Homo sapiens: one gene and its partners. The protein of the gene in region 1 purifies or fractionates together with the protein of each later gene. This does not show direct contact. Each region holds a gene or a part of one and is shown in the gene's direction. Other genes may lie near its edges. The genes, in order: KIZ, SCLT1 and BMX.

Region 1 (3,752 bases):
TAAGACCACATGGTGACCATATCTCATGGCCTACAACCTTAACTCTTTGATTTCTTTTACTTTCTGAAATGCAGTTTTGTTTTTCTTTCATCTACTCTAGTAGCCAAAGTAGTTGGCTCTATCCAGCACACAATAGAAAGTTCTCAGGCTTCTCCATCAGCCTTGCCTTAGCTTTACATATTAGGTATGACCTAGAGAAAAAAATGTTGGCCCCAAGAATTCTGTATAATAAAAAATCAACTATGAATTGCAGGGTCACATTTACTTTCAGAGATTTTCCCAAAAGGAAAAATAATTGCTCCTTAGATACGAGAGTGGAGAACAAAACACTGGAAAGTACGCTCTGCCCTTCTCCGTGGGTAGGCCACGCACCACGCACATTTAGCTCTGAAACATGTTTCCTGTGAGAAAACCAATCACACAGACAATTAAGAACGATTACACAATTAATTCACATTTCACTAGGATGTTTACTGGCTCCCTGCATTACACAATTAATTCACATTTCACTGGGATGTTTACTGGCTCCCTGTGGCTTAAATGTTCTCAAAGCTACACTGTGTAACCACAGGACAAACAGAAAAAGCAAGTTCAAGTGGCCTCATAGAGACATGGCTTCAGGAAATCATTTTTTCCTAGAGTGCCACATGCGGAAGTGAGGTCCCTGAAATGCTCAGTGGGTCACCTCCGTGGTGGGACTCAGCATTGCTGGCTGATTGCTTTTGATGAGTTAAGTGACGACTAACACACACTCGCATAGATGTTCTCATGTGTCTGTGTTTACAGCCTTGTGCATGACTTTTTCCTTTTTTTTTCTGCTTCAGCTTTTCTGGGTTTTTATTTTTTTTTCTTTGCCAGCAGGGAAGCCAAAGAAACTTGATTCTGAAGTGCAATATTGAATAGAAATATGTAAATCAAGTATTATATAATTGAATATTGATCAAATGCCTTTAAGCAGGGCCCTATGCTTAGTGAAGTTCGCTTGTTCATTCCAAGTGAACATACTCATTAAGCACCTGTTAAGTGCTGTGCACCGCCTTACCCAGGTGAGCTGAAACAGGTGTGGTCACTACCCGCATGGATCTTGCAGTTCAGAGGGGGAGGACTGGCACGTCAGTTGGCTGCACAAGTGGATGTGAAACAGCAACTTGACGAGGACTCAGTGGTAAAGATAGGGAGTCAGAAGTGGGAAGGCTCCAGCAGGACAGCACGACACTCCTGGGGGATCCACCTTGGAGGCACTGCTTGGGATTTAGGTCTTTGTGCAGAAATCAATGGAAAGGCATTGAAGAATTTTAAGCGAGGAAGTGGAGCGACCAGATTTGCATTTCAGAAAGCTCACTCTCATTGCCTAGTGGAAAATGGATAGTAGGGGACAAGATGAGTGTGTGTCACCAGTTAGGAGGTTGTTGCAGAGAGAGAAGCAAGAGCTGATAGTTTTGTTGACCAGTGTACTGGCAGTGCCCAGGGAACTGGTGAGGACTGCAGGAAGTATTGCAGGGGGGTCGAGAGGGGTGGGGGTGGAATTGGCAGGACCGAGGGCCAGACTGGATGTGAAGGAAAGAGGAGTGGAGACTGGAGAGGGGCTTGGGGAGACTAGTGGGTCAGGGGTGCCATTTGCTGAGACGGGAGGAGCTGAGCTCACCTGCCACTGTGTCCTTTCTCCTGTGTCAGGGGCTCCCTGCTGCCCCACCCCGCCACACCTTGTTCCCCAGTCCTGTCCTGTGAAGGCCTCTGCCTTTGGAGGTGCCGGGCTTCCTCTGTGGTCCTGCAGCTCCCCCAATCACCTGCCACAGTGCTCTCCATCCACCCAGCTGGCAGAGATCTCTCCTGCTCCCCCTGTGGCTCTTCTTGTATGGACCGCGGCTGGCAAATTAGCCTCTTTCCACCCCTCCTAGCATTTTTATAATCCACCCTCCCCTGCAGCACCTAGCCCAGTGTCCTCAGGTAGGGGGAGGTGGGGAAATAATAGACATCCCTGCAGTTGCATTTAGTGTGTGTGTGATGTGTGTGTCACTTTCTGTAAAATGGGTTCTTGCAGGCTCACCTCACTGACAGGTCCCCACAATCCTGGCAGCTCCAGGACTGTCAGTCAGCTGCTGGCCTTTCCAGATGCTCGTAGGGGTCTTCCATGCTTCATGGAGAAATGGCTGTGAGCACTACTCAGTCATGGCAATTAAAGAAACAGGCACTAAATTTAAAGGGAACACTGAAAGGTAGCCTAGAAAATGATACCTTAGTGGAGCATGTTTTTCTGAAAAAAAAAAGTAAATTATAGCAAAACGTAGATTTTTAAGCCAAAAGTCAACCACACTTGGCCCAAAGGGAAGGAAAAGATATATTTGCAGGGTTTCCTGTGTCCAGAAGAACAAGGCCCTGGCTGTGAGAAGGGCGGTGGTGGTGCGTGGGGTAGGGCAAAGTGTCGAGCCATGCACCAAGAATGGTTTCTCTCCCAACATCTCCTGTGACCATTCAGGCAATTCTGAAAGAATCTCAGCATCATAAAACATTCGAGTGACACTCCCTGAGGAGACTTTTAAATTCATTAAAATTGCAAAAGCTCCTGAAAAGGCACACAGAGAAATCATATCCCGTGGAGCCAGTTTTCTTGTCATATTGGCCTCAGTCGAGACGGTCCTGGACGCCACGAACACTAGCATTTATGTGACACTTGCAGGGCCCTCTACCAGGTGTTTGTTTTGAACTCCTTTCTTAACTGTTAGTATTGCTGCCACTGGTTTGACTAAGTATTTTAACTTCCTTACCAACATCTTGAATTCCCTACTGCAAGTGTTTCATTTTTAGCTTGCCTGAAAGCACTGAAGTTTGATGCATCACTGTCTTCCAGAAGACTGTTGAGGGAAACCGGTCCCCTGCCTCAGGGGAACATGCGATCATCCTCCCCCAAGAACACGTGGCCCCACACAGGCACAGCTCAGCAGGGCGGGGTGGGCCATGCAGACCTGCCGAGGGGACACACGCAGGACGGGAGCAATGCTGTTGAGTAGCGACCCTCCCGACAAGGCCACGCTGCATCCCGATATTTTCCCTTTACTTTTAAACTCTGGGAAGTAAGTGTAAAGTTCTGGCCTCCAGTGAATCAAAGTGCTTCTTCTCTAATGCGTTCATTATGAAAATATTAGTCTCATTGTCTTTTCTTTTTCAGAACTTAGACTGTTTCTTTATTTTGCAGGCATGAAAACAAAAAGAAACCCGTGATCAATTTAAAATCTAATGGTGAGAGAGATAATCGGACACTAGATTTTCTTTTTCTGTTTTAACCAAAAAACTCTGTGACATGCATTTGTTGTTTGCACCCTCATGTGAGTCCTGAAGCGGGCATGCTCACAGGGACTGCCATTGCAGCTGTCCCTGGGGTGGAACCTGAGGGCTTCTGGAGGCTCAGTTCTTCACAGACAGGACCACACGGGTGCCATGGACCACAGGGGCAGAGCATTGTAATTTGCAAGTATGAATTTGCAGGGGATCCTGGCCTCCATGTCTAATTAATTATCAGCACCCTGTATTTTACCAATGAAATGTTTCTTGCCTCTCTCCTCATCCTCAGAAGCACCCATTGCTCATGACCGGACAGGCTCTTGGAGTAACTCTAACTGGTTTCCTCATACCCAGTTCCTCCCAGCTCCTGGGAACTCCCAGCTCCTCCACCTGGCCACCAGCCTCCAAACCCTGGCTTCCCCCGACCTTCCTGTGTAAGGACGGCCAATGCCTCCCCGTACCTTCAGGGTAGA
Region 2 (3,752 bases), on another chromosome or scaffold:
CAGGTATTATGATGGAGCCTGGAGACAAACTACAAAACATGACAGATAATGCAGGAAGGAGCATGAAGTAAGTACTAAGGTGGCACCTACCTTGGGAGAAGTGGATAAAGAACTCAGGAGATGTGAAAAGGAGGAACATGAGAGGGGATCCTTTAAGGATAAGTGAAATCATCACAATTTTGTTTCCTAATGATGAAACTTATGTTGAAAATACTCCATTAAAATTCAACTACTAAAATCTTGTAACCACAAACACAAACGCAAAAACAAAAAACTATCATGATCATAATTATGATCATGTAAGCTAAAAAATTCGAGTGCAGACATAAAAGTTTTCACCTGAGATATTCACTTTATGTAAATACCACTCATCAGTTATAGCCAGAAGGTATTTGCTTCCATCCAGTTTGGGTGTAAGCGTAGAGTTAAGTCTATAATTATTTATTTGATGCCAAGTAGAAATACGACAATATACAAGGTTCAAATGTGGGAGAAGTTACAAGCAAGTCCTTGGAGAGTCAGTGAGATGTTTATGAAGAAAGAGTCATATACTGAACTTCAAAAACGAGTTGGACCTTGCACACTCAATTTTCCCTTAGCTATAACGTTTATACAAAAAGTTTTTGTGTAAACGTTATAGCTACTAAAAATCAGAACAAGTTCAATTATCACCAACTCAAAGCTGGATTAGACCTTTTCAATGATTATTAAGCTACACATCCATATTTAACAGCTAGTCTTTAGAGGAAGGGACCATCTCATTCTATTAACAGTGAGTATTGAGTAAGGCCTTCAGATGCCTAACTGCATATATTTGAATACATTTTTAAAATTTCTTAACACATATCGCTAAGGTTACTTTGTTTATATGACATTATGAGTACGGGACAACAAAACTCTTAAGCCGTTAAACAGAAAGCCAAATCAAGCTGCATCTATGACATGCCTGTTTAGTGAAACTTTACTTCAGTCCATAAAAATACAATTTATTAAAAGCACAAAACTAGTGGCTAGCTTCAAGTTAACATTTTTGTTGCTAGTGGTGAGATTTCCTCTAATGTTAAATGATTTTTTTTAAAAAAATACGTTTTAAGTCCAGACAAAATTAATTTTCAAAAATGAAAATTGTAATCTATCCACAAATGTAAGTTTTACCGTTTTGTTTTTTGCAAAAAAAAGTACCTTTTATCTTTCCTTATATTTGAGGAAACAAGCTTATCTTTGAAGAAGTAGCTGCTGAATTTGCAAGATCTTTTGAGTACTTCTAACTACACGCTTTATTACTACACAGTTAAATATTTAAACAACAGTTGTCTCCTTTGTCTAAAGACCCACAAAGACCGAGAAGGTACTTACCTTCTTGAGATGACCAAATCCAAACCTAGAACTCCTCCAGAGGTACAGCCTTGGTGGGAGATTCTGAAGACGCCAGTCTGGCTTCTATCCCTAGCCGCAGGAACCTGCATCTTTTACTTAGTCCAGAAAGGCTTAGTATATTAGTAACCCAAAGATAGTGAGGGCATTTAAACTGTGTATTTCATTCTCTACTCACGTTTGCATTTTGGTTTTTTGTTTGTTTGTTTGTTTGTTTTAAAGAGGTTGGGCCTCACTACCTGGAGACACTGTCCCACCAGTTTGGCCGCCGCGCCAAGCCGGTGGCTCAGCCCGCTGTCATCCAGGTTCTCACGACTCCTCCCATTGCTTGACAGCCAGCCAATAGCGTGCTAGGACTCTAGGACGCGCGATGGCGTAAGCTCCAACGCCCGCGTGATGACGCAAGAGGCGCCACCGTCTCCAAGGAGTGGTCCGGGGCACCGGTTTCAAAGTCGCAGGGCGGGCCGAGTGGACTTCCGCTGCTGGCCTGGGGCTTCCCAGCCGTCTTGGCGTTGTCCTCTCCAACCCCCGCCGCTCCGCGTAGAACGCCGCTCTCAGGCTGCCGTCAAGCTCCCGCGGCACTCTCCTAGGTGGCCCGACGAGACCCAGAGTGACCCGCGGGACGCCTGTATCGACCGCGTCCTCTTCCCACCAGCGTGGGATTCGGTTGAACGTGGAGTCCCCAGCAATCTTCAGTCTCTCACCAGGGCCAGGGACTCGTCTGGGGCGCGGGGGAAAGAAGCGTGGCGGGGCTGTAGATGCCGCGTGAGTAGGATGCAGATTGCACCGCTGGAGCGCTTGACAACCAACCGAGCGTTGGCTTAGTTTTGTTTTCCCGCACAGCAAGCTCTCTGTCTTTCAGAGGAAGGTAAAGGTGGTGAAAGCTCTAAACTAAAATTGTATCGAAATGGCTGCAGAAATCGACTTTCTGAGAGAGCAAAGTAAGCTCCATGTTTTTTTGAGACTTCATATACAATGTTTAATATCGTCGTCGTTGACCGACAAATCTTTTTTGAATGCTGGTTGGGTACATTTAAATTGGTAAAGAGTTAAAGAAGTTAGTTGCAGGAAAAAAAAAACCTTGATGTTATACGTGAGGATGTGTGTATATTTAAGCAGAACCGTGTGGTAGTACTTGTAGCTTACACAGAATTCTACTAGACGCTAAACATGTTTGTTATGCTCCTCTCGTGCTCTGAAGATTAGAAGGCTAATGGCCAGCAGGAGTTTCCAAGTGTGCATTTAAAATCTAGGGGCACAGCTCTCTGGCCATTTATTAAAAAGATGTTTATTGAACTCCTGTTTCTATTATGTACCAGACACTATGGAAGAACAGCTGCTGCAAAGATAAACAGGACAGTTTTTACCTCCAAGAATTTAATTTGGGGAGGGAAATGTATTCCAAAATATATTGAAGTGACAGCAACTGCTGGCTCTTTTGCCACAGTCTCATAGGGTTGTTGGAAAGATTAAATGAATATTAAAATATGTAAAGGATTTAGAATAGTATCTGATACATTGTGTTAAACAAATATTAACTATTACACGATTATTATTAAAATATGTTCAAGGAAGGTGCTATTGGGCTGAAACGTGCAGTACAAATATGAATTTACTATATGAAAAACTCTAGGCATCCCAAATAGAACAATATTTGTGACACTGAGGGGATTAGGAATATGCTTTGTTAAAGACTTGCAATACGGCTGGTTTGAGTGTAATATTGATGTAAATTGAATTGGAATATTTATATAGGGAAATGGCAAGTGCAGTTGAAGGCGTAGAAAGGGGCTGGATGGTGAAGGGCCCTGTCTTCTCTGTGCTAAGGAGTATGGACCATTGCATGGGTTATAGGAATTCAGTTGAGAGTGGCATGATCAAATTGTAGTTTAGAAGGCCCGGTCTGATTTTTACGGGGAATATGCATTATAGCAGAGTGCAGTTAGTTGTCTACTGTCATCATTCAGGTAAGAAGTAAACTAAGTTGGGCACAGGGAGACTGGAGATCAGGGGATTTGAGAGAAAGAGGTAGAGAGCAACTTAGTTTTTGCTTGAGCAACGGGGAAGTTAGGAAAAAGGTAGTAAGTTCCGTTTTGGTAGCATTATAGACCAGTGGTTAAGAACTCAGTCAGCCTCTGGATTTAGTCTGTCTGGGCTCACAGCCTACCTCTTTCCAGGTCTGTGACCTCGAGCAAGTTTCCTAGCTTTTCTGCACCTCAGTTTTCTCATTTATATAATGAGTATAAGAACACAAGAATCCTCTTGAAGTTGTGAGACTTAAATGAGATGATGAAAAAGCATTGAGCATAGTGTCTGGCACATATTAAGTGCATGGTATATGTTATCTAAAATAATTAATGACACTATAATGACACAAT
Region 3 (3,752 bases), on another chromosome or scaffold:
GAGAAAATTCCTAAAATTCTAACTGAGTAAAGATGACAATGCAGAGTATAATTTGAGTAAATGAAGTCATATTATCGTAATAGCAGATTGCCAAAAGTTAGGATGTAACTAAACTCATGGAAAATACAGAGCCAAAGAAACAGGAGAAGTAGCAGAGGAAGTGAATGAATAGAATAAAGTAAATAAATCTGTGACATTTTGCCTTAGAGGAAACCACTCCTCCCAGCTGTCCTTGGGTGTTTTATGCCCCCAAGAAGGGATGGAAATCCCAAGAGATTGTGCCCAGGTGTTTCCACAGTTATACCGACTGTATTAGTCCATTTTCATACTGCTATGAAGAAATACTCAAGACTGGGTAATTTATAAAGGAAAAGAGGTTTAATGGACTCACAGTTCCATATGACTGGGGAGGCCTCACAATCATGGTGGAAGGTGAAAGAGGAACAAAGGCATGTCTTACCTGGTGGCAAGCAAGAGTGCGTGTGCAGGGGAACTGCCCTTTATAAAACCATCAGATCTGGTGAGACTTATTCACTGTCATGAGGACAGCACGGTAAAAACATCCACTCCCGTGATTCAATTACCTCCCACTAGGTCCCTCCCACAACATGTGGGGATTATGGGAACTACAATTCAAGATGAGATTTGGGTGAGGACACAGCCAAACCATATCACCAACTCCTCCTTCCCCTACCCTAAGTTTACTTTTTATTCTAGAATCGAACTTTTGCCATATTACCATATATAAGTTGTGAAGTAAATACAAATCGCCATGTGGAAAAGGAAATTAACTAGCAGAGTGTAGAATTAATTTATTTAGCCAGGTTGTTGTGCCACTCTTGCCCTGCTTCACCCTTAATTTTTTGAATGACTACCTACTATATTCCTAAAGAATGGAGAGCTATTTGGAATCCATCAGTGACTTTAATTTGCTATTAGAATGTAAGTTACACTCTTTTGAATTCTTCTGAAGGACTCCTTTCCCTTCCCAAAATTCTAGTTTCCAAACTGAAATATTAAAAAATATTTCTGCAAGTTATTTTTCCCATACTCTACTGTAATTAAACCACTATTTGTGGTTCCCCCCCCCCCCACACAGACACATAAGCCCCTTGAAGATGTGGGCTGCCTCTCTTCTGTTTGCTCTTGTGTCTCCAACCCCTAACGGAATGCTCAGCACATGGCAGGTTCTCAAATAAGACTTGACTGAACGAATTAATAGAAATGATGCTAATTCCATGTACACTCAAAAGAATACCTCTTTGAAAGCCAGTAGCTTCACTCTCTTCTGCCAACCCAAGACTTCTTCACATCATAGATACTTACAAATAAGTTACAGTAAGCAACAATTTATAAGTAAACACAGTGTGTCAATGCATGCCAAAAGGATGATTACTTTTCTTGGCTATCCATAGCAGGACATAAAATATGTCCTTAGATTTATTACAGATGGCCAGCCGGTATGCACCAGAGAAAATAGTGGAATGGGGGAAGCCAAAAGTTGTGAGTCTGTCATAATGATGTCAAGTGACACACTTTTTCATTGCGATCTAGGTGTACCATACCTTAGCAAAAACAATCTATTTTCCATTTCTGGATTTCTTAATAACTTAAACTATATAAATAAGCTCCTTTTCCATCATATGAACTGTTCTTACATATTCTCTGGCCTTCCTTTGTCCAAATGTTGAGTTGAAGTTTTCATTGCATATTCTCTGTGCACTTTGCATTACCTAATGGTTTCCTGGCTCATGTGAGAGAAGTCAGCGTCAGCAGTCGGGTTTTGCCGAGATATTTTCTTGTCCTTTCCAGCATAGAGCTCTACAAACAAAGGCAGGGTTATCACATGTACCCGAGAGCTGCCTGGGAAAAGTGGGAGCTATAGTTATCAAAATTGGAAACTTTATGAAGTATGCTTTTGTCTCCGTTTTTGTTGCGTTCAATCAGATCAACAAGTGTTGGCTAAGTGTTGAGCGTGGTTTCCTGTGGGATTGTGTAAGGCTCTGTAGGACAATAAACGTGTTGGGGGCACTGAGTAATGTAGCCATTTCTGACCCGGCAGCCAGGAAAATGTGAAACAATTTGCTTCTGGAAACAGGACAGCCGGGGCCGTGTTCCTGCAACAGCAGACCAAGCACCGCGGCGGACCCAGGCAAGCACGGAACAAGCTGAGACGGTGCGTTTAAGCGGCAGGTGGCTACTCAGTGTCGCATACTATGCGGAAAATAGGTTTGGTTCCCGGTGTTGTGGGGCCTGAAGTTACAAACTTTGGGAAGCTCACTTTAAGAAAAATAGTACAACATTTTTAATATGAAATTGCCAGGGCTTTCTCTGGGACTTTAGATGGGACCAGGTAATTTGGAGGCCAACGGCTGAAACTGCTATAATTTCACTGTAAATTCACTCCTTGCTCAAAATCTCAGTTAGGGAAGCTCTCAGGTTGTTTATGTATCACCACCAGTTCTACCTAGCTTTGTGTGTATTCTCTGCTAATTTTCTCCATCCGCTTCTTTAGGTATTGCCTTTCCATAGCCTTTCATATTGGCCTCATAACTGCTTCCAAAGAGACATAGAAATGTTCCTTATACCTTCTTTAACTGTGTTTTTATGATGTTACTTTAGCTACAAATATTTGCTCTTAGGTTCCTGAGGTCTCCCTAAATCAAGTGCTTTGTGTATTTTAGATGGAGATAGACAGGTGGGAGGGAGGTGAACCATGCAGTTGTACTCATATCCATATAATTTTGAAAGATTTTGTGGGCCACAATGATTTCATTGGATTTGAAAAGGAGTGCAACTTTGTGGTCCATGTAAGTGCTTCTCAAGCTTTCCTGTGCACGTGGATCACCTGGGGATCTTGCTAAAATGAAGATTTGGCTGCGCGAGGTCTCGGGTGGGAACTGAGAGTCTGCATGTCTAATGATCGCCCGGATGATGCAAGTGCACGGACCACACTTTGAGTCACATCCAAGTATTTATTTGTAGGAAATATGGTGGCACAAATACACAGTCAATAAGGGTATGGTTCAACCTCATTTTATGGTAACTCGTCTCAGGATGGAAAGTCTGCGACAAACCTACTATGTATGGACTGGTGTTTGTTGACATGGCAATACATGAGGAGGTCTTCCTGCCTCCCATTTTCTCCTATACCCAGGAGCTGGGGACAGAGGGATGAGAAGTAAAATTTTATCATTAAGGATCATTATTATTTCACTGTCTTTAGTTTTTTAACTTTTTATGGTCCTTTTTAAAACTTTGCCTATGGAGTGATCAGAAGGGACATAAGCTTTTAGAATATCTACTAGGGTGTTGGGCATTAGGCTGCCATTTTCTCTTGACTACTTGTAACCCTTCGAAGTGGTTATTGTTTCACTGCCTTTACAGATGGGGAAGCTGAGGTTTAGCTGGGTTAAGTAACATGACAGATTCCATAGAGACAGAGCAGGGATTCGAACCCAGCTCGGTGCTTTCACTTGCACTAACCGGCATCATGAAAGCAGTGTTACATGTTTAATTCAGCATGAGATGCTAGCTCATGGATTTATTACTTTTTGCTTTTCTCCTAAGGAAGTTGCCCAGAGAGAGTGCCCTAAGCAGAGGAGAGGGAGCAGAAAGAAAGAGGTTACTGAAAAGAAGAAAAGACTTAGAAAAGCTCTATGGGGCACTGAAGATTAATCTCACACCTAAAGCAAAACTTAGCTCCAAAAAGACTAGCATTAAGATTCTTGCCTTCTTTGTGAGAAAATGAT

What was found.
Region 2: the proteins of KIZ (region 1) and SCLT1 purify together in Homo sapiens (co-immunoprecipitation; 4 studies listed by BioGRID and IntAct, with this or other methods). This does not show direct contact.
Region 3: the proteins of KIZ (region 1) and BMX purify together in Homo sapiens (affinity purification with mass spectrometry; 2 studies listed by BioGRID and IntAct, with this or other methods). This does not show direct contact.

Annotation. Positions count from the first base shown.
Region 1 is NC_000020.11:21,241,052-21,244,803, forward strand, and holds part of KIZ (centrosomal protein kizuna), read left to right. Parts: intron 1-3,193; coding exon 3,194-3,237; exon of another isoform or gene 3,238-3,752. UniProt on the Homo sapiens protein: Centrosomal protein required for establishing a robust mitotic centrosome architecture that can endure the forces that converge on the centrosomes during spindle formation. Required for stabilizing the expanded pericentriolar material around the centriole.
Region 2 is NC_000004.12:129,091,633-129,095,384, reverse strand, and holds the start of SCLT1 (sodium channel and clathrin linker 1), read left to right. Parts: upstream 1-1,845; 5' UTR 1,846-2,281; coding exon 2,282-2,315; intron 2,316-3,752. UniProt on the Homo sapiens protein: Adapter protein that links SCN10A to clathrin. Regulates SCN10A channel activity, possibly by promoting channel internalization.
Region 3 is NC_000023.11:15,498,765-15,502,516, forward strand, and holds the start of BMX (cytoplasmic tyrosine-protein kinase BMX), read left to right. Parts: upstream 1-2,042; 5' UTR 2,043-2,176; intron 2,177-3,752. UniProt on the Homo sapiens protein: Non-receptor tyrosine kinase that plays central but diverse modulatory roles in various signaling processes involved in the regulation of actin reorganization, cell migration, cell proliferation and survival, cell adhesion, and apoptosis.